Linked DNA regions of Homo sapiens. Changing the gene in region 3 together with the main gene of any one other region gives a genetic interaction. Each region holds a gene or a part of one and is shown on either strand. Other genes may lie near its edges. The genes, in order: EIF2D, DET1, FASN, SBDS, RASEF, DPM1 and ATP13A3.

Region 1 (3,500 bases), on a different chromosome or scaffold from region 3:
GACAAGAGCCACATCCTTCCTGAGGGATACAGAACACCTGGTACAAGAAAACGACCCCCAGCTTCATCCCTACCTCACCCACTTGGCTCTGAAAGGAACCCATTCCCAGGTACCAAAGCTCCCAGCCTCTCTTGAGCACTGAGCCTTTAAAGAGGGTTGACCCCAGAGAAGGAGTCAAGCCACAAAGTCCCACCAAGCTAGGAGTGTTCACCCAGAGAAGTTGAGCCAGAAGAAACCTTGGAGGGCTTTGTAGCTGAAGACAGGCAAATGCCAGGGCAGATTAGCTCCCAGGAAGACGTGACTTATGTGGAAAGGATTCAAAAACAAGATGTGAAAGGGCTGCTGCGCCACCCTCACAGAAAATAAGGACCTTCCCCTCCTCCCCCGGAAGCTTAAGGGCCATTCTAGTCAGCAGTGGAGTGGAGTTCGTCAGGCTCCTAAATTGAGAGGTGGGGAGATGGGCTCTTCTCCTCCTAGAGTTATACCTTGAAGCGTTTTGCTATCTGTGGAGTCTTGGTTCAGGCCCCTGGTGCTGGTGTCTTCTGGGGCTTCTGAGAGAGACTTGTCTTCACGTGCCTGGTGAACCTCCCCATTCTCCTCTTCCCCCTCCAGGGTCATGTGCCTCATGTCTCCCTGCAGGGTGGAGTCCATCTGGACAGACCCCTTCTCTTCACTGAGATCTGCTGAATCCAGGGCCAGTGGAGCAATGGAAGGTGGAGAGGACTTGTTTCCAGACCGCCTGGAAAAATCTCATGTCAGAAACATCAAGCAGCAGCTCCAATACTCTCCAGCCCTGGCCACAGAGGAGTCAGCAGTGAGGTCAGAGACAGCAGAGAGCCAACAGGCAGGAGTGGCCAGGAGGGGGCAGAGAGCCTGTGCCCTCATCTCAAGCGTACTTTCAATTCTGGGCCCCTAAAAGTTCCATGCCTCAGTTTCTTCATCTCTGAAATGGGGAGAATAAATCTTGTCTCCTCCCTATCCCAAAAGAATAATACTATTAATAGACATCCCAAGACTGAGAAAGATTAAAGAAAAAGGAGTTTAAGATAAACTCCCAAAAATGTTCCCTTCATCTGAGTTAATAACAAAACCAATTTGAATTAAATATGAACATTAAGATCGCGAATGCATCTGTAATATCTGTTTGGTGAAATGCAAACCCACGGCTCAGCATATGTAATAAAACACAAACACCTGGACTGCTCAAGGACTGCAAAATCAGTGGCTTCTGTGTTACATCAAATGCAGTCTAACGTGGAAAGCAGAGATTGCCATGGTTTTATGCCACTAAGCCTTAGGAAGACAGGAAAACAGGCGATGCCACATAGCAAAGCACACAAAGCAGTAAAAAACTTTATCTTAGCCAACATTATGCAAATCAAACTAAGTTTTAACTAATAGTTACGGCAAGGCTTCTCAGTGTTGTTCACAGTAAAGCCAAAGGGTATGTTTAGGCTATTCTGATCAGGTAAATACCATAAATATTTTTTTCAAGGTGCAGCGAGAGAACCAAAGCAGCTGCTGCTAAAACAACTTAGACAACCTGACCTTGATTGCTGTTGCCCAGACTGATAGTTAAACAACAAGGTGCTAGGAGAACATCAGTCATCAGCCCTCAAATATCTAAAAACAGGCAAAAATGAGCTTGTACCAGCAAAGGAGGACTTGGCAAGTACTTGTAAAATCAGTAAGTCCGGCGGGGAGCGGTGGCTCACGCCTGTAATCTCAGCACTTTGGGAGGCCTAGATGGGCAGATCACGTGAGGTTAGGAGTTCGAGACTAGCCTGGCCAACACGGTGAAACCCTGTCTCTACTAAAAACAAAAAAATTAGCCGGATGTTTTGGGCACAAGCCTGTAATCCCAGCTACTCGGGAGGCTGAGGTAGGAGAATCACTTGAACCGAGAGGCAGAGGTTGCAGTGAGCTGAGATTGCGCCACTGCACTCCAGCCTGGGCAACAAGAGCAAAACTCCATCTCAAAAAAAAAGGCTGGGCGCAGTGGCTCACACCTGTAATCCCAGCACTTTGGGAGGCCGAGGTGGGTGGATCACAAGGTCAATGGATCGAGACCATCCTGGCTAACATGGTGAAACCCCGTCTCTACTAAAAATACAAAAAATTAGCCGGGCGTGGTGGGAGGTACCTGTGGTCCCAGCTACTCAGGAGGCTGAGGCAGGAGAATGGAGTGAACCGGGAGGTGGAGCTTGCAGTGAGCTGAGATCACGCCACTGCACTCCAACCTGGGCGACAGAGCGAGACTCCATCTCAAAAAAAAAAAAAAAAAAAATTAATAATTCCAAGACTGGGCTGGAAAATATAAGAATGAATCTATACCAACAGGCCACAATACTTGGCTAAATGTGTGCTTTGAGAAAATCACTGCTTACTGTTTTGCTAAAATGACAAGAAAATAACCAGAAAATGAACAGGTACGCGTCTCAAGAATGCAACCTTTACAGTCAGAATGCGTTACTTTCATGAGGAGGAGGAGTCTGGAATGTGAAATCTGAATAACATAAAAGTAATCAGGTTATAATCCTGGAGTCTAAAGGTCTACCCTGCAGTGATTAGGATTCAGAAGCACTCATCATGGGGTCACATGATGTCTAAAATGTGCATCGCAGCTAGGGCCAGATTGACCAGGGCTATAAAAAAACGAGTATCACTGTACTGAGAGGCAGAGCAGATGATCCCTAAGGTCTTCCTTTGGGTCTAAGATTCTATAATTCACTTAGAAAATAAAGTTCTCTCTCATTACTTGTCCAAACAGGGGAAAAAAATATTTTCTTTATATTTGTAAGGAAATAAAAGTCTGGGCTTAGCAACTTGCTTAAAGACATGGCTAGGACCAAAACTCTCACTCCTGAATCACAGGCCCCATCCTCTCCCCAGCTGCCCCGGTTCTCTGTAAAACAGAAGAAACTCTGTACCCACCACAAGTGGTCCTGGTAAGTGTGGAGCACAGAGAAGCCCCTTCCCTTCAGGCCTGACGTGAGCATCTCAGCTGTGGACATGGCTGCAACTCCAATGGCTACAGGGGCTCTAAGAAGAAGGAAGCCAGAGACCAGGGTCATGGAAAATCTATGGGAAGGGCACATGTTAGGATCATCTTCTGACACATGTGGTAAAAATACCAAGGTTACCAATTCGAAGGTCTTGTATCATAAAACCAAACTCAGTCCACTCTCAGTTTTCTTCAGATTATGTACAAATATTACTTTCAAAAATCCCTTGACCAAATATTAAACTAAACACTAAACTTCTGTATTAGTAACTCCTCTATTGACTTTATCACTGCCTTTGTTTTATTCCTGCTGTGAATTAAATCTCCAGGTGGGTCTTGGAAGGATATTTAATGTTCCCTTTCATTAATTTCAAAAATATAAATTATCTCCTCTACCTTAAAGAAGTCATAGCCATCCCATAAGGAAGTTTAAAGGGGAGGCAATTCATATATCATAAATTAGGCTGAGGGATGCCATAGGGAAGAGAGAAGAGAC
Region 2 (3,500 bases), on a different chromosome or scaffold from region 3:
TTTGAGTCATGGAGACACCAAAGGTATTTAGGGTACAGATCTAGAAGAAGAGGGAGAACGCCTAGATCCAACTGACCCAGGAGACCTCAGGCTGGCCTCTAGTCCCCCTCCCTCAATCTTAAAGCTACAGCAATGTGGCAAGTGGTATTAGCTGTTGTGATTTTTCTGTTCTTTCTGGTTATGTTAATTCTGTTTTTCTGATACTCCAGCCCCCCAGGGAGTGAGTTTCTCTGTCCATGTTGGATCTGATACCTCTGCTCAAATTCTGTTAAATTGCCTTCTAAAAAAAAAAAAAAATGGGAAACACTTCCTCCCAGCCTTGCAAGTGTTGGAGCCCCCTCCAATGTATGCTGGAAAATTTTTCTCTTGGTGTGGGGAAAAGCAAGAGAGATCAGATTGTTACTGTGTCTGTGTAGAAAGAAGTAGACATAGGAGACTCCATTTTGTTATGTACTAAGAAAAATTCTTCTGCCTTGAGATTCTGTTAATCTATGACCTTAGCCCCAACCCCGTGCTCTCTGAAACATGTGCTGTGTCAACTCAGAGTTGAATGGATTAAGGGCGGTGCAAGATGTGCTTTGTTAAACAGATGCTTGAGGGCAGCATGCTCCTTAAGAGTCATCACCACTCCCTAATCTCAAGTACCCAGGGACACAAAAACTGTGGAAGGCCGCAGGGACCTCTGCCTAGGAAAGCCAGGTATTGTCCAAGGTTTCTCCCCATGTGATAGTCTGAAATATGGCCTCGTGGGAAGGGAAAGACCTGACCGTCCCCCAGCCCGACACCCATAAAGGGTCTGTGCTGAGGAGGATTAGTAAAAGGGGAAGGAATGCCTCTTGCAGTTGAGACAAGAGGAAGGCATCTGTCTCCTGCCTGTCCCTGGGCAATGGAATGTCTCGGTATAAAACCCGATTGTATGCTCCATCTACTGAGATAGGGAAAAACCGCCTTAGGGCTGGAGGTGGGACCTGCGGGCAGCAATACTGCTTTGTAAAGCATTGAGATGTTTATGTGTATGCATATCTAAAAGCACAGCACTTAATCCTTTACATTGTCTATGATGCAAAGACCTTTGTTCACGTGTTTGTCTGCTGACCCTCTCCGCACAATTGTCTTGTGACCCTGACACATCCTCCTCTTTGAGAAACACCCACAGATGATCAATAAATACTAAGGGAACTCAGAGGCTGGCGGGATCCTCCATATGCTGAACGCTGGTTCCCCGGGTCCCCTTATTTCTTTCTCTATACTTTGTCTCTGTGTCTTTTTCTTTTCCAAATCTCTCGTCCCACCTTACGAGAAACACCCACAGGTGTGTAGGGGCAACCCACCCCTACATCTTGGTTTTTCAGAGAATTACGGAGTCTGCCTTTAAAAAGGCAAGCTCCGGACACTCTGTGAAGTAGAATGGCCAAGGTTTGGAGTTGGGTGGCCCTCTAAAGGATCATTGAATCCTACAATTGTTCAAGCCGTGTGGCGGGTTGTTACTGGAACTCCTGGCCACCCTGATCAGTTTCCCTATATCAATCAATGGTTAAGTTTGATTAGAAATCCTCCTCCATGGCTCCGTTCATGTGCCATTCACAATTCCACCTCCAAAGTCCTCCTGAACCAGGCCGTGTTTTCACCTCGACCCTCAGCCAGTTCGGCTCCCCCTGTTTTGCCTCCCTCTGAAGAAGGGAGGACATGTCTCTTCGAGGAGACGTCCCCTGTGGGCTCACCGCCCAATTGCCTCCCGGCTGTGACCGCGCTGGGAGGAAGCAGCCCCTCTACTACCACTGAGAGAGGCACAAGTTCCTCCAGGTGATGAGCGCTCAGCCCCCTTCCTGTTTTATGTCCCTTTTTCTACTTCTGACTTGTATAACTGGAAAACCCATAATCCTCCCTTCTCTGAAAAGCCTCAGGCTTTGACCTCACTGATGGAGTCCATGCTCCAGACCCATCGACCCACCTAGGATGACAGCCAACAGCTCCTTTTAACTCTCTTTACCTCTGAGGAGAGGGAGCGCATCTGAAGAGAGGCCAGAAAACACTTCCTTGCATTAACCGGTAGGCCTGAGGAGGAAGCTAGAGACCTCCTGGAGGAGGTCATTCCCTCCACCCGGCCTAATTGGGACCCAAATTCCTCAGGTGGAAGGAGAGCCTTGGACGATTTTCACTGGTATCTCCTCACGGATATTAAAGGAGCCACTCAGAAGCCCATAAACTTGTCTAAGACAACTGAAGTTGTCCAGGGGCCTGATGAGTCACCAGGAGCGTTTTTAGAATGTCTCCAGGAGGCTTATCGCATTTATACTCCTTTTGACCCGGTGGCTCCCGAAAATAGCCACGCTCTTAATTTGGCATTTGAGGCTCAGGCAGCCCTGGACATTAAGAGAAAGCTCCAGAAACTGAAAGGATTTACTGGGATAAATAACAGTCAGCTTTTAGAAATAGCCCAGAAGGTTTTTGACAATCGAGAGTATGAAAACAGAAACAAGCAACACAGGCAGCTGAAAAGGCCGCTGATAAAGCCTATAAAAGACAAGCAAAAATCTTACTAATGGCTATCCAAGAGGGCAGAAAGGAAAGGCCCCCATTCCAGAAAAAATGGCCAAGGAACCTTGGGTTCCCACCAGAAAAGTAAAAGAGGTGAACAGGCCTCTCTAGGAAAAGACCAATGTGCCTATTGCAAGCAGACTAGGCACTGGAAAAAGGAATGCCCACTACTGCCACAAGAAAAGTCAGAAAACAAAAAGTTCTCACCCTGCCTGCAACAGAAGAGCCTGAATGACAGGGCCGTGAGATACTGTCATCTCTGGATATTGGGGTTTGCGGAGATTGCAAAGCCCTTGTATACTGCTATAAGAGGTAATGGCCCATTGATTTGGACAGACACCGAAGAACAGGCTTTTCAAAATCTGAAAAAGACTTTAACTGAAGCCCCTGCTTTAGGCCTCCCAGATACCTCAAAGCCTTTTCATCTGTTTGTCCATGAGAGCCAGGGAATTGCTAAGGGGGTGCTTACTCAGACTTTAAGACCTTGGAGACACCCAATGGCTTATTTATCTAAGAGGCTGGATCCTGTGGCCTCTGGATGGCCAAGTAGCAGCTAGAGCAAGCCTAGTCCAAGAAACTGATAAGTTAATTCTGGGCCAGGATTTAACCCTTACAGCTCCTCATGCTGTAGAGACTTTACTACAAAGTGCTTCAGGTAAATGGATGTCAGATGCTTGCATTTTACAATATCAGAGTTGTTGAATCAGCCTCGTTTGACTTTCTCTCCCACATGGTGTTTAAATCCAGCTACTATCCAAGACTGTAAGGAACTGTTAGAAACTACCGAAACTGGCCGACCTGATCTTCAAGATGTGGCCCTAGAGAAGGCGGACGCCGCTGTGTTCACAGATGGTAGCAGCTTTCTCAAGCAGCGAGTATGAAAGGCCGGTGCAGCTGTTACCACGGAGACAGATGTGTTGTGGGCTCAGGCTTTACCAGCAAACACCTCAGTGCAAAAAGCT
Region 3 (3,399 bases):
GCCCAGGGCTCCCTGTCCCTTGCTCCCTCCCAGCCTCCACTCCTTTGCCTAAACCCAAGTCTTCTGGGTCAACCTGGCCAGCCAGTGGCGCTATTGACACCGTCTTGGTGAGGCTGTGACGGCATCTTTGGCAGGGCGAATGCCTGCAATCCACTGACTTCAAGCAAATACTATTCTCCACGAGGGGCCTCTCCTCAGCTGAAGCCAACTTCCCAGTGTCTGTACCTCCTACACGTTTCTCACTGGTGGTGTTTCTTGGCCAGAGCCTCGGTACCCCCCCCCCCGCCAGTCCCAGCGCTTTCCCGGGAAGCCCGGGGCTGCCACGCGGGCTCCTTCCTCACTCCCCGGCCCAGCCCCGGCTCTGGGACATGGCCTAGGGGTGTGTGGGAACTGGGGACCAGAGGACAGAGGGCATCCCCTTCACGGCCCCGTGACTGGGTGGGGTGGAGCTGGAGAGCTTGCAGCTGCCAGGTCAGGGAGGAGGGAAGAAAGGACGGTGGTGGAGATCACATGCGGTTTAATTGTGGGAGGCTGAGAGCAGCATTTTTACCAAATTGGTGTAAAAATGAAACGGGGTCCAGACGTGTACACTGACAGTTACAGTAAATTTCAAAATCCAAGCAGCAATTTGAATCATTTCTTGAAAAACAAACACAGACAAACACCAAACATGGAGTTGGTGCCCGGCGCCGGGCATAAGGGCAGCACCCCACGGGTGGCTGTGCGGGGGGCCGCTGGGTGTGGCCGGGCCCTGTGTGCCTGTGCAGGGGCCCAGCTCCTCGGGGACTGGCCCACGACCCCCCACTCAGCGGGCTGAGCCAATGCCTGGCCGAGAGGGGGCCGCAGCCAGCAGGCTTGGGTGGCTGCCCGCGCCCGCAGGGGACATCGGGGAAATGGGGGCAGAGTGCGGGACCCACACGCTGCCTGAGGAGTCTTGGCAGGGTGGACAGGCCTGGGGGTCTCTACCAGCAATGCAATAAATATGCAAATCCAAGCACAGAAAGACCAAGCGCAGACCCCACGGGCGCACGAGGCCCAGCCCAGTTCCTGCGGGCACGGGCACCACCGGCTCTTCACAGACCAGGAGTCTCCAAGTCGGCAGCTCTGGTGTCCCCGAGGTGCCGTGGGAGGCGGCGGGTGGGTGGGACATGCCTAACACCTACATCTAGCAGCCTCGGGGGGCAGTGGCACTGGGCCGGACAGGGTCCCACCGGCAGGACCCTTCAATCCCGTTGCATGGCGGGGGTGGGGTGGGGTGGGGTGGGGATGGTGGAGTGACCTCCGGTGGCAGGCGGGGGCACGGGCCTAGCCCTCCCGCACGCTCACGCGTGGCTCAGCCAGGGAGCTGTGGATGATGCTGATGATGGACTCCAGGCCGCTGCCCTCCAGCAGCGTGCGGTGGTCACCCTCGATGACGTGGACGGATACTTTCCCGTCGCATACCTGCAGGGGATGCGATCAGCTGCCGTCCCACCCCACTCCTGTCCCTGTCCCCGTTCCCGTCAGGCCCCTTGCGCACCTGGGAGAGGTTGTAGTCCGCGCCCAGGTCCTCGCCGTAGGCGCCACCCGTCTTGGCGCGCAGTAGCATCACGTTGCCATGGTACTTGGCCTTGGGTGTGTACTGCTCAGCGGCACGCAGCTTGTAGTAGAAGGACCGGGCCGCAAAGCTCAGCTCCTGGCGGTCCAGGCCCTGGTGGCTCTTGATGATCAGGTCCACGGCGGCTGCCACACGCTCCTCTAGGCCCTTCAGCGGCAGCAGCGCCTCCAGCACCTGTGGGGTCGGGCTCTGAGCAGGTGCTGGCAGCACCCACAGCACCGGCCTGCCCTGTGCTACACTGCGGGTGGGCTTTTTTTTTTTGAGACGAGTTTCATTTTTGTTACCCAGGCTAGATGGAGTGGGGCGATCTCAGCTCACCGCAACCTCCACCTACCCGGTTCAAGCGATTCTCCTCCCTCCGCAACCTCCACCTACCCGGTTCAAGCGATTCTCCTCCCGAGTAGGTGGGACTATAGGTGAGTGCCACCATGCCTGGCTAATTTTTGTATTTTTAGTAGAGAAGGGGTTTCTCCACGTTGGTCAGGCTGGTCTCGAACTCCCGACCTCAGGTAATCTGCCCGCCTTAGCCTCCCAAAGTGCCGGGATTACAGGCATGAGCAACCGCATCCGGCCGGGATCGGCTATTAAAGGGGTGAAGTTGGGGGGCCTTTAACGCTCTTCGCGTCCCATCCCATCCTTCCCTTCCCCCTTCCGTTCCTGCCCAGTACTCTGGGTCCTGCGGCCTCAGGGGTGTCCAGGACCCACCCTGTTGTGCTCCATGTCCGTGAACTGCTGCACGAAGAAGCATATGGCCTCCGTCTCAGCCTCAGCCTCACAGCCTGGGGTCAGCTTTGCCCGGTAGCTCTGAGAGGAAGGAGGGACTGCTGAGCAGATGGAAGGGGCGGGGCCTCCTAAGCGACGGTCCCCCAAAGCCAGGGCACAGGTGGGGAGCCCAGACGTTTGCCGTAGGCCTCTAGGACCAGCCTGGCTCTCACCTGGGTGTAGGCCAGTACGTAGGTGGGCGAGCCGTCGAACAGGAAGAGGCTGTTGTGGGTGGGGGCTGGGCTCTGCTGGGCCTGCAGCTGGGAGCACATTTCAAAGGCCACGCAGGCCCCGTAGGAGTAGCCGGCCACGCGGTAGGGGCCCTCGGGCTGCACCTGCCTGATGCAGTCGATGTAGTAGGCAGCCAGGCTGTGGATGCTGTCAAGGGGCGCAGCTGCAATGGCAGTGCCGGGCACTCAGCATGTGCAGGCGGCAGCCACGGGCCCCGTGATGGCCAGCACTGACCACCGCTTCCAGAGGAGGGCCCGGGAGTACCTCGGGTGCACTGCAGGCCATAGGTGGGGATGCTGAGCCGGGAGGCCAGGCTGTGGAACACGGTGGTGGAGCCCTCGATTGGGTGCACCAGGAACAGGGGCCGCTCCGAGCTCTGCACGGAGTTGAGCCGCATCAGGGTGGGGCCCTCCGGGTTCACCAGCAGGGAGCGCAGGTTCAGCTGAGTCTGCTGCTGGGCCAGACCATCCTCCTTGGGCGTGGGGCATGCCAGCTCTGTGAAGACAGGGGCAGATGCCAGGCTGGTCTGGGTGCAGAGCCCTGGCACCCACGCAAGGACACACAGACACGCACGCAGGTCCCCACGGTGCTACGTCAGGTGGGAGTCGGGGTGGGAACGCTCAGAATGGCACCCGTGACGAAGGGCGGTATGCCTGCCGGGACACGGTCCAGACAACAAGGAGGAAGGGCTGGGGAGGCCCGGGGACCCCACTCCCGCCTGGCCACCCACACGCACCGCTGGCCTCATCCGCCTTTGAGGACAGCTCCTGCAGTTTCCGGAGCGTGAGTTGCCGCACCTCGCGCACGGA
Region 4 (4,239 bases), on a different chromosome or scaffold from region 3:
CTCCCCTGCCGCCCCAGGGTCCTTGCCCGCCGAGTGCCCTTACCCATCCTCCTCAGAGCCGACAGGAGACTAGGATCTCGGACCTGGATAGCCCGATGATTCGCACTGGTACCGCGAGACGCACCGAGCTACCTCGCCGCGTTAGCGGCGTACCGAGTGCCTGCAGACCTGTGGGCAGCCATGACACTGCCAGGCCGGTCCTGATTGGTTCAGAGGACGAAGAGGTGGGCCCAGAGGAAAGCCCAGAGCTCCGGGAAAGGAAGCCAGTGCCCGGTGCGCTCTCGGCCCTGCTCCGATTGGCTCAGAGGGGAAAGGGGGCGTGCCCAGAAATAAGCACCTCCCAGAGTTCCAGGCGATGAAGGCGGAGCGCTTCCGCCTCCATTTGGATTGGCTCAGACTGGGAAAAGGCGGGCCCAGAGAGAAATGATTGGCATGGGAAAATTAAAAGAGGAAAGGAGCGGGGAGCGGGGGAAATGCTATGTGGGCCTGTTTGGATCTTAACTGAAATAAACCGACTGTAGAAAGGCATTATTTTTGGGAAACCCGAGGATGGACTCGCTATTAGATGATATTAAGGAATTGTAGTTAATCTCGTCGCGTGTATCTGTTAAGGGCTATAGGCTGAAGTATTTAATGCTGAAACCATATGATGGTTTCTTTAAAATACCCCCAACCGGCCGGGCGCTGTGACTCAAACCTGTAATCCCAGCACTTGGGAAGCCGAAGCGGGAGGATCGCTTGAGCCCAGGAGTTCGAGACCAGCCTGAGCAACATAGTGAGACCTCGTCTGTACAAAAAATTTTTTTTAATTATTTATTTAATTAAATTAGCTTGGCGTGGCCGCTCACACCTGTAGTCCCAGCTACTTGGGAAGCTAACGCTGGAAGATCGCTCGAACCCAGGAGGTCGAAGCTGCAGTGGGGCCATGACCCTGCCACTGCACTCCAGCCTGGGTGACAGAGTGAGACTGACTTAAAAAAAAAACTGTAAATAAAAAAGCAACAAAAAAATGAAAAAAGAATAAAACAAGGATGGCAAAATGTTGATAGCGGGGTGATGGGTACATAGAAGGTTCATTACACTTTTTTGTCTACATTTTATGTTAAAATATTTCTATTATAAAAGGGTGAGTAAATAAAAATATTTATTATAAAATAATTCTATTATAAAAAATATTTATATTATAAAGTGGGTCTGGCCCTTGAATTCCGCGGAACGAGGTGGTGCCAACGCTGTGTTTTAACCCGGTCACTAAACATCCGCGAGCATCCTGTCAGAGCTCTCAGCTCATTGGCGAAAGTAAATACGCCAAGGAAAAGCACCTCCCTTTTTGGGCGTGGAAAGATGGCGTAAAAAGCCACAATACGCAGGCGTCATCGCTCACTTTTCCCCTCCCGGCTTCTGCTCCACCTGACGCCTGCGCAGTAAGTAAGCCTGCCAGACACACTGTGACGGCTGCCTGAAGCTAGTGAGTCGCGGCGCCGCGCACTGGTGGTTGGGTCAGTGCCGCGCGCCGATCGGTCGTTACCGCGAGGCGCTGGTGGCCTTCAGGCTGGACGGCGCGGGTCAGCCCTGGTTCGCCGGCTTCTGGGTCTTTGAACAGCCGCGATGTCGATCTTCACCCCCACCAACCAGATCCGCCTAACCAATGTGGCCGTGGTACGGATGAAGCGTGCCGGGAAGCGCTTCGAAATCGCCTGCTACAAAAACAAGGTCGTCGGCTGGCGGAGCGGCGTGTGAGTAGCCCCCTCCCTCGGGCCTGGGCCTGGGCCTGAGCCGTCACCTCCGAGGCGGCCTGTCTCTGCCCAAGTCGAGTGAATGGGCCAGGCTGGGGTGTTGGCCGGGGAGGAAATGGAACATTCCTGCTGTGAGCATGAGACGTCGCTGTCCGAGCTTGGCGCCTAAGCCAAGGGTTTCTTCTTTATTTGGTTGGTTCGGATTGGGTTGTTGGTTTGGGGTTTTGTTTTGTTGGTGTCATAAAAGCTGCAGCCAAGAAATCTCGTAATTGTGGTCCTTTTCCTAGAATAATGATGGCTGAGAACCTAGTCTTACGAATACTGTCATAGTTGTGGGTACATCTGGTGTCATAGATCTCAGTAGCCCTAGCAGTTTAAAGTGCGTAGTGTCTTCACTGCTGCCATCTAGGGACTGGCATTCCGTGGCAGCAGCTGTCTGCACCCCACCCCACCCTTGTGTTTCTTACGTCCTCCCATGACATTTTTCTCCAGTGAGCAAATGGTAAGGCAAATACGGTTCTGAGTTTTGAAAATGTTCCCTCAGGCCGATGCGGGCAGTTCACTTGAGGCCAGGAGTTCGAGGCCAGCCTGGCCAACATGAAACCCCATCTCTACTAAAAATACAAAGTTAGCCGGGTGTGGTGGCGCATGCCTGTAATCCCAGTTACTCAGGAGGCTGAGGCGGGAGAATCACTTGAACCCGGGAGGCTGAGGTTACAGTGACCCGAGATCGCGCCATTGCACTCCAGCCTGGGCAAAAACAGTGAAATTCCATCTAGGGGCGGGGGTTGGGGGGTAAGAAAAAGAAAACTGCCCTCTACACTAAAGGTCATCAGGGGGATTTGTTGTGTCTTGCCGTTCATGTTGTTGCCATCTCGTATTTAAATGTAAATGCATGTCCAAGTTTCAAGTATATTCACATAGGACTTTCTCTCCTGCCCTCACAAGGGAAAAAGACCTCGATGAAGTTCTGCAGACCCACTCAGTGTTTGTAAATGTTTCTAAAGGTCAGGTTGCCAAAAAGGAAGATCTCATCAGTGCGTTTGGAACAGATGACCAAACTGAAATCTGTAAGCAGGTGGGTAACAGCTGCAGCATAGCTAACCCTAATAACCATTTATAACGTATTTGTAGATATATTAAACATTAAAGGCTGTTTTTCTGGAGGAAAGACTAACCAAGCAATAATGTGAACTGCACAGTGTCACTTCTAATAATAAAGAACTTGGTGGTTTTGTTTGTTTTTTGTGGTTTTTTTTTTTTTTTTTTTGCCAAAACCTCCTGAAATCAGATTTTCTACTAAATTACCTCATTTTTCTATAAATTGCCCCATTTATAGAATGTGGTATACCTGAAAACTGAATTTGTTTTCAAGTATTTCATCTTTCAGATCCTTTTTTTTTTGGGTGGGGGGACAGAGTCTTGCTCTGTTGCCCAGGCTGGAGTGCAGTGCACTTCACTGCACTCAGCTCACTGCAACCTCTGCCTCCTGGATTCAAGCGATTCTCTTGCCTCAGCTTCCAGGGTAGCTGGGATTACAGGTGCCCACCACCCTGCCTGGCTAATTTTTGGATTTTTAGTAGAGATGGGGTTTCACCATGTTGGCCAGGTTGGTCTCAAACTCCTGACCTTGGGTGATATGCCCGCCTTAGCCACCCAAAGTGCTGGGATTACAGATGTGAGCCACTGAGCCCAGCCAAAAGATTCTTGCATCTTTTGGGCAAAGCTCAAACCATTACTTACATATTGATAGCTGGAGAGGATGAAATTTAATTTTCTCTCCATCCAGTTACTCATTTTTTATGGTTAGTTAATAAATAGTGTGTGATAGAGAAAGATAGTGATTTCTTAAATGTGTTGGCATTTTTTTAGATTTTGACTAAAGGAGAAGTTCAAGTATCAGATAAAGAAAGACACACACAACTGGAGCAGATGTTTAGGGACATTGCAACTATTGTGGCAGACAAATGTGTGAATCCTGAAACAAAGAGACCATACACCGTGATCCTTATTGAGAGAGCCATGAAGGACATCCACTATTCGGTGAAAACCAACAAGAGTACAAAACAGCAGGTGAGTGGTTTCTCATGTCATCAAAATATAGCCATGGAAATCAGTTTTCTCTGAAGAAATCATTAAAATAATGGGTCTGGGGCCAGGCACAATGGTTCATGCCTGTAATCCTAGCACTTTGGGAGCCAAGATGGGAGGATTGCTTGAGGCCTGGAAACAGCCTGGGAAACATAGGGACGCCCCATCTCTAAATTTTTTTTTTTTTTTTTTGAGACAGAGTCTTACTCTATTGCCCAGGCTGGAGTGCAGTAGTATGATCTCGGCTCACTACAATCTCCACCTCCCGCGTTCAAGCAAGTCTCCTGCCTCAGCCTCCTGAGTAGCTGGGATTATAGGCACGTGCCACCACACTCAGCTAATTTTGTATTTTTAGTAGAGTTGAGGTTTCACCATGTTGGCCAGGCTGGTCTTGAACTCCTGACCCTAGGTG
Region 5 (3,500 bases), on a different chromosome or scaffold from region 3:
CATGATCTGTAAATATTTAATAGCTCAGCATAATATTATATGAGCTATGTTGCAGAAAAGGGAAACTCTCAAAGCAAATATAAATATCACTAGTAGATCCTTGTAAAATAGCTACTGTATTGAAGGAGTCACAGAGGCTTGCCAAAAGTTAGAATTTAGCCTTGTGTTTAATCAAATGAACTGAAATATTAGGCCTTTTATTACTTGAGACCTAGTAATCACTTAGAGATTACATGAGTGTATGTGTATGTTTATACACATATGTCCAGTGTTGCTAGTTAATTTAGTAATATGTCAAAAATTTGAAATTAGAAGTGAAAGCATAAACAAAAAGTTTCCGACTCTCTATTTCTTTGTGACTTTCAGATTCACGTTCATCCCCTTTTCATTTGGGTACTTTTGATAAAAAGAATAATGTACTTAACATCCTGGTGTTAGAAATGGTCAGGTTGCCATTTAGGAAGACCTGTTACGAAGGCTTATTGGTGATCATTTCTAAGAAAATTGTATCAGGTTTAAGTGGTTTCTACTGTTCACTGATTAGCTCAATAAAAAAATTTAATGGCTTGATTTATAGATGGCTGACTATTCTGTTATTGAGAAATAATCGATTTTTAAAAATGTGTAGGTGTGATGTCATTTTTGACTAATATTTAAAACTGATTCTAAGCAAATTGGGGGGAAAGGTATACAACTGAAAAGTATTTCAGAAATTTCACCATGATTCATTTTGGAAAGATTAGACACCATGAAAGCCTCATAAGAACTGGAGTAGAGCTCATCAACGAAAGATTCTAGGGGACAAAGTCATCACGTCCCCAGCATGTTTGAGTGACGTAGCACTCATGTGCCTACCTCCTTGAGCTGTAATGAGAGGCCACCGTAGCCTCAACACCATGCCCCTTCTGGGTGTGTGTGGGGGGGTGATTATTTTGACATAAGAAGATAACATTTTATTTTCTTTTTGATGCTAATATAAAAATGTAATAAAAGCATGTTGTACATCAGATTAGATGTACAATAAAATTGTATTGTTTTTATAGCTTTATTTGGTTTTAACTTTAAAATTTATTTTGGCTTTGTTCTTCGCAAGAACTCTAACAAAGATTTAATTTGTTTTGTACTTTTACATAGTTAATTATAATGAAATTATTGAGTGTTGGCAAGATGGTTGACTTTGAAAAGGATATGCAGTTCAATTGAGTTTGAGAAAGTTTGACCTGTACCTATGTTTTTATTTTTACTTTTAAAAATTTTCAACTTTTATTTAAGATTCAGGGGGTACATGCACAGATTTGTTACATGAGTATATTGCATAATGCTGAGTGTGCCTATATTTTCAATTTAGAGTCTAGATGTTTATTCAGGTGAATTCTTAATTCAGAACTTGATGTTTTCTTTGCTCCTTGTCAAAATACAAGTAGGCTTAAAATAAATCATAACCAGTAATGAAGACATGGAACTGAAGTAGTTTGTAGTATATTATAATTAGAATGGTTTTCTTATGTGCTTTATAGATGGACCTAAAATCAGTTTCAGAAGGAGAGTTTTATAAATAATGCAATAATATATTGGCAATATATTTTCATTGTTATTGTTATTAATAGTATATATTAACAATAAATAAATATTAAAATATATTAACAATATATTTTATTGTTATTGTTATTAACAGTATATTAACACACACACGCACACATGCACACACGTAGCTAGCTATATAGATTGAGTTATGATATAAAATTCTTGGCTCAGAATAAAGACTTTGTAATTGAGCAGTATTGAGAGAGAGAAAGTTAGTTACATCATCTTTTTAATTAATTTTAAACATTTGCTAATGGCATAAAAATACTTTTGACTTCTCAGATTTACATGGCTCACACTTAATTATATTAAGCTTACCTTCTCTCATCTAAGCATATCCACTTCTTGTTTCTCATATCTGAAGACCTATGTATCGTGCCCATTCTCCCTTTCCAATGATTCGTGTAAGCAAATTGGTAGGGTGGTGCCCAGGGTGTAGTGGGTGGTAAATAAGTCATAACCATAATTGGTAAACTTAGATTCTTATGGAAATCAAATGGAAAAGCTAAAGTAAACAGGAATGTATACAGTTTCTTATGATTCTCTTATTTGATGTGAATTTCTCCCTCACTTATAAAATCTTCAGAGTTTCACTAATGGTAAGATCTATAGAAGTCAGGAGTTCCAGCCTTTATCTGAGGCACCTCCCTCCCTATGAAACGTCTCCCAGAGGGGTGTTTCCAGACGGTGTGTCAACATTTAGTGGCAGAAAACTTACGTGTCAAATCATACATTCCAGTCATGTTTCTAATTGCTTATTTTTATCAGATGTTTCTAATTGCCTATCATTTTTTGCCATGTTGATTAGAAATATGACACCCAGAAAAGCTTATCTTATTTTGTCTTGTGCAACCTGAGAGGATGTGGTCTTCTTCATGTATCAGCTCTTCAAGTATTTGAAGAGAGAAACCATTAAGAGTTAAGTTGAGTACACTGAATCTTATTTTTCAGCTCTGAGGGTCTTGAGTCTGACATTGTGGTTGCCTTTTCTGTTTGGGCTCTCAGCAGCCCTTTTAAGTAGAGATGTTATCCAGAAATGGACACAATGTTCAGAATATGGTCTGACCACCTTAGAGTAAAAAAGCTCATATATTCTGCATACATTTTTATGAATACAACTTGCGATTGTGTTTATGTCTTAGGTACTCTAATTCTTTTTGTATCAGGAAATAAAGAACATTATTTTTTTAATGGCTTTGTTTGTTAAGTGTTTGATGTAAGGTTCTTTATCTTAACTGATTGCTGCATAGAATGAACTGATGGTGCTTTGAGCATTTTATTTCCCCTAATGCCTAATCATGAAATAACACTGCGGCTCTTAGCCACAGTCGGCCTACTTGATTCCATCTAATGGCATGTGGTCTATTGCCTGTATGTTCTTGAGCATTTCCAGCCCTCAGGTAAATTGGTCTTCCCCTTTATTACCAGGTCATCCCGCTCTTCCTATGTGGATGAGGACTGTGACTCCCTGGCCCTCTGTGATCCTCTGCAGAGGACAAATTGTGAAGTTGACAGCCTGCCTGAAAGCTGCTTCGACAGCGGCTTGTCTACCTTGAGAGATCCCAATGAGTATGACTCAGAAGTGGAATACAAGCACCAGAGGGGATTTCAGAGGTCACACGGGGTGCAGGAGAGCTTTGGAGGTGATGCTTCAGACACAGATGTAAGCCCCAGAAACCACTGCTCTCCTAGGCCTTCTACGTGATTGAAATCTGTCACCTTATTTGCCTTCTATCTGTCATGGAAATCTGTTTTAAAGGTCATAGATGTAAAGCATAGTTAGTAAAATGCTTTTTCCTCCACAGAGTTAGGGAGAAATTCTCATAGATTGCCATTCAGTGTCACTCTATTCCCTAATATTAATAGCATTGACTGTTGATTTAGCTGCATAGTTTTCTTCTTTTTAATCCATAATG
Region 6 (3,500 bases), on a different chromosome or scaffold from region 3:
TAACTTCCTATGATGGTTTTTAATGATCTTAATGACATTTAAATGGTATAACTTGGGTCGCCTGTATAAGTCAAGACCCACTCAGGAAAACAGAACCACTGTAAGTCTTTCAGTGTAGGGAATTTAATACTGAGTCTCTGGTTACACCCCTGAAGGAGTTCCTGAGAAACCAAATGGAGCAGTGAGGCTACTAAGATTAGTAACAGCTGGAGGTCACTGCCACCCCTAGGGATGGAGCAACGGCAGGAAGAGATGTTAGAGCCCAAGAACCTGGGCTGCCCAGAGGGAGCTAGAATGATGGGGCAGGGGCTGCCTGGCAGGAGCTAGAACTGTGGGAAATTCCCAGTCAGAGGTAGGAGGGAGAGTAACAGAGGGAGGACCACTTAGACTTTTCCCTTTTCCCCTCCCTGCAGTCTTCCACCTGTACCTCCCAAAGCTGTTTGGCAGCCAGTTGACAAGAGAATCTGGAATATGTAGTTCACCCAATATAGCACAGAGTAGGGAAGGGCCAGAGAATGGGTCTGAGGGCAAATATCTTGGACCAGCATGCTGCAAACCTTGGAACATCCTTTAAGTTACAAGTTTAAAAAGTTACTCTTCATTTAAGGCTGGGCACAGTGGCTCACAAATGTAATCTTAGCACTTTGGGAGGCCGAGGTGGGCAGAGCACGAGGTCAAGAGATCGAGACCATCCTGGCCAACATGGTAAAACCCCATCCCTACTAAAAATACAAAAATTAGCTGGGCGTCGTGACGCGCATCTATAATCCCAGCTACTCGGGAGGCTGAGGCAGGAGAGTCGCTTGAACTCAGGAGGCAGAGGTTGCAATGAGCCGAGATCACACCACTGCACTCCAGCCTAGTGATAAAAACAGTTATTCTTTATTTTTAAAAAAGGAAGCTTTTCCAGCTTTTAAACATACAGCATTATTGAAAAGCTCATATGAGCTCAGTAATTCTGAGAGGAAACTCTGCCTTTATTTGTGCTAAAACTTAACATGAAGAAAGCACAATGCTTAACTGGAGTCTGCTATCTTGAAGACCATCAATTCCCAAGCATCAAATGTTCTCAGTATCTGAACCCAGAAGATTCTTTGGGATTCAAAAAAATCTGGAAACTGCCATGAAACCAAAAAGTGTAAATATTCACTCCTTTATCTTTCTGAGACAGTCTTACTCTGATCCCCAGGCTGGAGTGCAGTGGCACAATCTCGGCTCACTGCAACCCCTGCCTGCTGGGTTTGAGCCATTCTTGTGCCTCAGCCTCCCGAGTAGCTGGGATTACAGGCGTGTACCACCATGCCCGGCTAATTTTTGTTTGTTTGAGACGGAGTTTCGCTCTTCTTGCCCAGGCTGGGGTGCGATGACGCGATCTCGGCTCACCGCGATCTCTGCCTCCCGGGTTCAAGCGATTCTCCTGCCTCAGCCTCCCAGGTAGCTGGGATTGTAGGCATGCACCACCATGCCCAGCTAATTTTGTATTTTTGGTAGAGACGGGGTTTCTCCATGTTGGTCAGGCTGGTCTCGAATTCCCGACCTCAGATGATCCGCCTGCCTCGGCCTCCCAAAGTGCTGGGATTACAAGCGTGAGCCACTGCGCCTGGCCAATTTTTTGTATTTTTAGTAGAGATGAGGTTTTGCCATGTTGGTTAGGCTAGTCTCAAACTCCCTGACCTCCAGTGATCCACCCATCTCAGCCTCCCAAAGTGCTGGGATTACAGGCATGAGCCACCACACCCAGCCGATATTCACTTCTTAACAAAATAAGTTAGAAGAGTTCAGCCTTGCTCATAAGACACTTGTGAGGGGTCTGGACTAGAGAATGCAGGAATCCCCAAGTCCTGCTCCTAACAAGTTACCCTAGCCTGCCAAGTCCCTGTGGGACTTTGAGGCATGGAGCTGGCTGAGTAATTGTCACCTAGGCCTTTGGCCCCAAATACCAGAGCAAGGGTCTAGCGTACCAGGTTTACGGTGTAAAAGACAAGAAAAAGGGAATTGAAATGTTTTGGATGGAGAATCAATAGGACTTAATTACAGTTTAGAAGTTATGGTTAAAGGCAGGAAATCAAGAATCATCTCTAGACCTGTGGATGGAGCAGTTGGATAGTTGGTGCCTTTCCTGGAGAGGTGGCCTGTAAGAGAGAGGTAGAGAATTGGAAGATGATTTTGCAATGTTATCTTTGAGATTTCTGAAATACCCAAGTGGAGATATTAAGTAGGAAGCTGATTTGTAAATGTGGAGCTCATCAGTGTCTTAGGGGGATGCCAAGGAAACACCAGATGGGTTTTTAAAGCATGAGAATGTGATAATTGTGCTACATAATCTTAGACTTTTGAACTTATAAACTATTTCTTTGCTATACTGAAATAGAGGTATGATCTATTGTATTAAATTGACATCTGAATGGGGGTGTGTGGCCAGCTACCTTCTTGATTATATATGTAATATACATGAACTTATGTACTTAAGGTGAAAAATACCAATTTATTAATCTGACTTTTAGAGAACTAATGTGTGCTCTTCAGGTGCTAAACAATTTCCTTGATGTTCAAATGTATATGTAAAGATTTCTGTTGATTTTCTTGAATGGATCTACTTTCATTTTTAGGAACTGCATATATTCATGGAATGAAACATGCCACAGGAAACTACATCATTATTATGGATGCTGATCTCTCACACCATGTAAGTGGTATGTTTCTTTATTAGCTATTTATGGTAGTCTTAGCCTGTTTTACTGACTTACTGTTTATTCTTTTCAAATTTCAGCCAAAATTTATTCCTGAATTTATTAGGTAGGTACTATTTCTAATATTTGAAAGAAATATGACTGGAAACATTTATCTTACTGGTTTTGGGCTTATTTTCATTTTTTATTAATCAAAAATACACATACTATTTTTTCTATCAAAAATATAAACAAAGTTTGGGAAGTCAGGGTAGGAGGGTTGCTTGAAGTCAGCAGTTTGAGACCAGCCTGGGCAACAAAACAAGTACTTGTCTCTACAAAAAAAATAACAAAAATTAGCCAGACACAATGGCATGCGCCTGTAGTCCCAGCTACTCAGGCGGCTCAGGTGGGAGGATGACATGAGCCCAGGACTTCAAGGCTGCAGTGAGCTATGATCATGCCTCTCCATTCTAGTCTTGGTGACCCTGAGACAGAGTGAGACCTTGTCTCTAAAATATTTATCTGTATAGATAGTAGACACACACACACACACACACACACACACACACACACACAACACACATTTGAGACTAAATGATGTATTTTAGGAGTCCTGAGGAGCAAATCAACAGGTAGTTCGTTATCTGAATTCTTTCAGACCACAGAAAAAGGTGGAAGATGGCTTCTCTGATAAATGGAATTAAGCCTTGAGTTATTAGAATAAAACACCGTGAACAAAAGGGTTTATTCCAGGAATGCCAGAATGGCTCATTATTGGTAATCACTTATAATTCATTCATTATGTTAACAAAGTAGTGTGGTTAAGTC
Region 7 (3,500 bases), on a different chromosome or scaffold from region 3:
CATTGAGAAAAAAATTTCTATGATATAATTCAGGTAGGTTGAGGTGTTTTTTGTTTGTTTTCTTTTTTTGTTTGTTTCTTTTGAGATAGGATCTCTCTTTGTTGCTTAGGCTAGAGTGCAGTGGAACAAACACTTCTCACTGCAGACTTGACCACCTGGGCCTTAAATGATCCTCACTCCTCAAGCCTTCCAAGTAGTGGGACTGCAGGCACATGTCATCATGCCCAGCTAATTGTTTTTTCATTTTTTGTAGAGACGGGGTCTCACTATGCTGCCCAGGCTGGCCTCAAACTCCTAGGTTCAAGCAATCCTCCTATTTCAGCCTCCCAAAGTGGTGGGATTACAGGCATGAGCTACAATGCCTGACCTGAGATTTCTTAAGAACGTAACTATCACTGAACAGACTTCATCTCTTTTATAGTGCTAAAGCACGTACTATTTTTGTGTGCATCTCTTTGGTTGCATGTCTGTTTCCCCACCCAAGTGTCTTGAGAGCAGAGATCATCCCTTTTTGTCTTTAACCTCCCAGTGACTAGCATAGTGCCTGCTGCATTCTTGATACTCAGTTATTTAAAGAATAGCATCTTGATAACTATATTAGTAATATTTTCAAAGACCCATCTCTGGGTCCCAAGTAGATCTCATTGTTGGATTGCTAATGGTTCTTGTGTCACATTTTCAGGATCAGTAATTGTTTTATAGAATTGATCTGAGACTTGATAATGAATCCACGAAAACTGTATTGAATGTGCTTGTGGCACAGTTTTTTCTTTTTCACTTAACATTTAAATTAGGATATGTTGTAGAGGGCAGTAAAGAATAGATTTATGCTTATTTTTGGATACTACACAAAATGAATATTCCTTAGTATTAGAATTGTTTAGTGTACAGTGACATACATTTCCAAATGATTATTATATTGAGATACTGAACTCTTGAACACACACGTGGTTTATTCAGCATATAAAATGTTTTCATTTATAGATATTTTAAACTGCATTATAACTTATAGACATTTTTAATTGTTTAGATATTTCAAGTTTGTGTACATAAGTTGCTTACTCAATTGACTAAACCATTATGTGTTAAAACTTCTTTTTCTGCAGAGATGCAATTGAGAACAACATGGATTTTATGGGATTAATTATAATGCAGAACAAATTAAAGCAAGAAACCCCTGCAGTACTTGAAGATTTGCATAAAGCCAACATTCGCACCGTCATGGTCACAGGTTAGACTTTATAAAAGAACACAGAAGCAAATGGAGTGTGACAGAGCTGAAGTTATATTATATTGAGGGATAATCAGTTATAAAATCATATTATATAGTCTATAGTGGTTTCAACCTAAGTTCTCTTTTAGCTCTGAATATTTTCCCAAGCGCAAGATAACTTTGTCATATTCTTTTTGAGGTCTAGCGAATCCTATTTATAGAAAGTGTAGTAGAATAGTAAAAGTACGGCCGGGCGCGGTGGCTCACGCCTGTAATCCCAGCACTTTGGGAGGCCGAGGCGGGTGGATCATGAGGTCAGGAGATTGAGACCATCCTGGCTAACAAGGTGAAACCCCGTCTCTACTAAAAATACAAAAAATTAGCCGGGAGCGGTGGCGGGTGCCTGTAGTCCCAGCTACTCGGGAGGCTGAGGCAGGAGAATGGCGTGAACCCGGGAAGCGGAGCTTGCAGTGAGCCGAGATTGCGCCACTGCAGTCCGCAGTCCGGCCTGGGCGACAGAGCGAGACTCCGTCTCAAAAAAAAAAAAAAAAAAAAAAGAATAGTAAAAGTACACTGTAAAAATTTAAACTTGACTCCTTTTTGTTTTCTCTCTTTATTCGTATATTTCTTATAGCACTTATTGTACCTTGTGTTATTTGTAGATTTGTTTTCTGTACTAGAATATAAGATTCTTGAGGGTTAGGAGTATATTTTACTCATGTTGGGGTCCTTTGCAACTTTTAGAACTGTCAGCTACATAGAAAATGATTAATAGATATTCGATAGCATGAAATGTTTATATGTAAGATATTGTTTATTACCCTAGCTTGAATTCTAGTGAAATAGCCTACTTTTTTTTTTCTAGTACATCTAAGGGATTCTCCTGATGTTACTATACTGTTGATAATATTAGATAACTCTTACTCATTAGCTGTGTGAAATTGTGGTAGCTCTGTTTTTTGTTTTTTTTTCTTAGCAGATAATCAGATTTAAGATACTTAATGGCACTTACGTGTTCAGTAAGACTAATATGGAGAAAGTCTGTATACATTTTTGTGTTTTAGACTCTTGAGATCTATCTAATAACATAATTTTACCGTATAACTCAAGGTAACTAAGTCTGTTAGCATTCCAGCCATTCTTAGTTCTTGCGTCTTCTTTGTCAAGACACTTTTCACCTGTTCCTCGTCCTCCTCTTTTATTTATTTATTTATTTTCCCCTTGCCAGAATATGGCTTTGTGTACCAAAGGTCATAGGAAGATATTCTTGGAAATAGTGTGTGGAAATTGAGGAAAGAAATATCTCGCTCTTCTGTTTTGGTAGCAGTGGGATCCACAAACCTTTGTCTGCTTCTCCTTAATAAGATCCTGTTCTTGCTGCTCTTCTTTCTTCTCATGACTGAGAAGTTGTCTCTCTTGTTTCTCGTTTACACCTGTTCTTATTACCTGTCTTACCTTTTTGTTTTGTATGATCTTGCTTTTGTAATTCATCATTTTCTATGATATGGTGCTGGTGTTCTTGCACAGACCACTAGTCACTTTGTAAAGTTATTTCGGTAAGTATTTATTGAGCCACCTGATCTGTGTGTAGCACCGTGCCAGGTATTGTGTAGATACAAATAGTGCATGACTGGAAAAGATTGAGAATTATATTTGGCTTTAAAAATTGTGGGTGAGATGTTTTCTTTAGCATATAACGTGCTTGCGTTATTTGAGGCTTCTTTTGATAAGTATGCTCCAATTTTGTTATTTTTAAACTGTAAGTGGAAGAACCATACATTATCGTTACTCTGCCAGCCCAGTCATGGAGACTGTAGTAGATTCTCAGCAAGTACATGTTTGATACGTTCACGTTTCCATTTTAATTTCAATACATTTAAAATATTTTGAAAATTAGGTGACAGTATGTTGACTGCTGTCTCTGTGGCCAGAGATTGTGGAATGATTCTACCTCAGGATAAAGTGATTATTGCTGAAGCATTACCTCCAAAGGATGGGAAAGTTGCCAAAATAAATTGGCATTATGCAGACTCCCTCACGCAGTGCAGTCATCCATCAGCAATTGACCCAGAGGTAAGGTCAAGATCGACTGTCCGTTTTAAAGTTTGTTGATTTAAATTTAGTCTGAAAAAATAAAAAAAGTGGTGCATTAAAACACAGTAAAGCAAAAACTAAATGAAAACAGAAGTCAGGGCTATTTTTTCAGAGATTATGTTTCATTAGGACTGGGACAGACCCAGGAATCTCAATGTTCAAATTTTGATATTTAGCTAAGATGAGAAGCATA

The links.
Region 1: changes in FASN (region 3) and EIF2D together harm fitness less than expected from each alone (positive genetic interaction), as found in Homo sapiens cells (one large-scale study listed by BioGRID).
Region 2: changes in FASN (region 3) and DET1 together harm fitness more than expected from each alone (negative genetic interaction), as found in Homo sapiens cells (one large-scale study listed by BioGRID).
Region 4: changes in FASN (region 3) and SBDS together harm fitness less than expected from each alone (positive genetic interaction), as found in Homo sapiens cells (one large-scale study listed by BioGRID).
Region 5: changes in FASN (region 3) and RASEF together harm fitness more than expected from each alone (negative genetic interaction), as found in Homo sapiens cells (one large-scale study listed by BioGRID).
Region 6: changes in FASN (region 3) and DPM1 together harm fitness more than expected from each alone (negative genetic interaction), as found in Homo sapiens cells (one large-scale study listed by BioGRID).
Region 7: changes in FASN (region 3) and ATP13A3 together harm fitness more than expected from each alone (negative genetic interaction), as found in Homo sapiens cells (one large-scale study listed by BioGRID).

Annotation. Positions count from the first base shown.
Region 1 is NC_000001.11:206,602,466-206,605,965, forward strand, and holds part of EIF2D (eukaryotic translation initiation factor 2D), read right to left. Parts: intron 3,043-3,500; coding exon 2,935-3,042; intron 740-2,934; coding exon 486-739; intron 1-485. UniProt on the Homo sapiens protein: Translation initiation factor that is able to deliver tRNA to the P-site of the eukaryotic ribosome in a GTP-independent manner.
Region 2 is NC_000015.10:88,540,182-88,543,681, forward strand, and holds part of DET1 (DET1 homolog), read right to left. Parts: intron 1-3,500. UniProt on the Homo sapiens protein: Component of the E3 ubiquitin ligase DCX DET1-COP1 complex, which is required for ubiquitination and subsequent degradation of target proteins. The complex is involved in JUN ubiquitination and degradation.
Region 3 is NC_000017.11:82,077,838-82,081,236, forward strand, and holds the end of FASN (fatty acid synthase), read right to left. Parts: coding exon 3,327-3,399; intron 3,086-3,326; coding exon 2,855-3,085; intron 2,754-2,854; coding exon 2,533-2,753; intron 2,402-2,532; coding exon 2,303-2,401; intron 1,772-2,302; coding exon 1,520-1,771; intron 1,444-1,519; coding exon 1,306-1,443; 3' UTR 501-1,305; downstream 1-500. UniProt on the Homo sapiens protein: Fatty acid synthetase is a multifunctional enzyme that catalyzes the de novo biosynthesis of long-chain saturated fatty acids starting from acetyl-CoA and malonyl-CoA in the presence of NADPH.
Region 4 is NC_000007.14:66,992,787-66,997,025, reverse strand, and holds the start of SBDS (ribosome maturation protein SBDS), read left to right. Parts: upstream 1-1,439; 5' UTR 1,440-1,608; coding exon 1,609-1,736; intron 1,737-2,684; coding exon 2,685-2,814; intron 2,815-3,608; coding exon 3,609-3,809; intron 3,810-4,239. Other genes in the region: S-adenosyl-L-methionine-dependent tRNA 4-demethylwyosine synthase TYW1, read right to left, coding at 44-47. UniProt on the Homo sapiens protein: Required for the assembly of mature ribosomes and ribosome biogenesis.
Region 5 is NC_000009.12:83,000,643-83,004,142, reverse strand, and holds part of RASEF (ras and EF-hand domain-containing protein), read left to right. Parts: intron 1-3,012; coding exon 3,013-3,247; intron 3,248-3,500.
Region 6 is NC_000020.11:50,945,033-50,948,532, reverse strand, and holds part of DPM1 (dolichol-phosphate mannosyltransferase subunit 1), read left to right. Parts: intron 1-2,609; coding exon 2,610-2,686; intron 2,687-2,770; coding exon 2,771-2,796; intron 2,797-3,398; exon of another isoform or gene 3,399-3,500. UniProt on the Homo sapiens protein: Transfers mannose from GDP-mannose to dolichol monophosphate to form dolichol phosphate mannose (Dol-P-Man) which is the mannosyl donor in pathways leading to N-glycosylation, glycosyl phosphatidylinositol membrane anchoring, and O-mannosylation of proteins; catalytic subunit of the dolichol-phosphate mannose (DPM) synthase complex.
Region 7 is NC_000003.12:194,431,503-194,435,002, reverse strand, and holds part of ATP13A3 (polyamine-transporting ATPase 13A3), read left to right. Parts: intron 1-1,106; coding exon 1,107-1,231; intron 1,232-3,110; coding exon 3,111-3,286; intron 3,287-3,500. UniProt on the Homo sapiens protein: ATP-driven pump involved in endocytosis-dependent polyamine transport. Uses ATP as an energy source to transfer polyamine precursor putrescine from the endosomal compartment to the cytosol.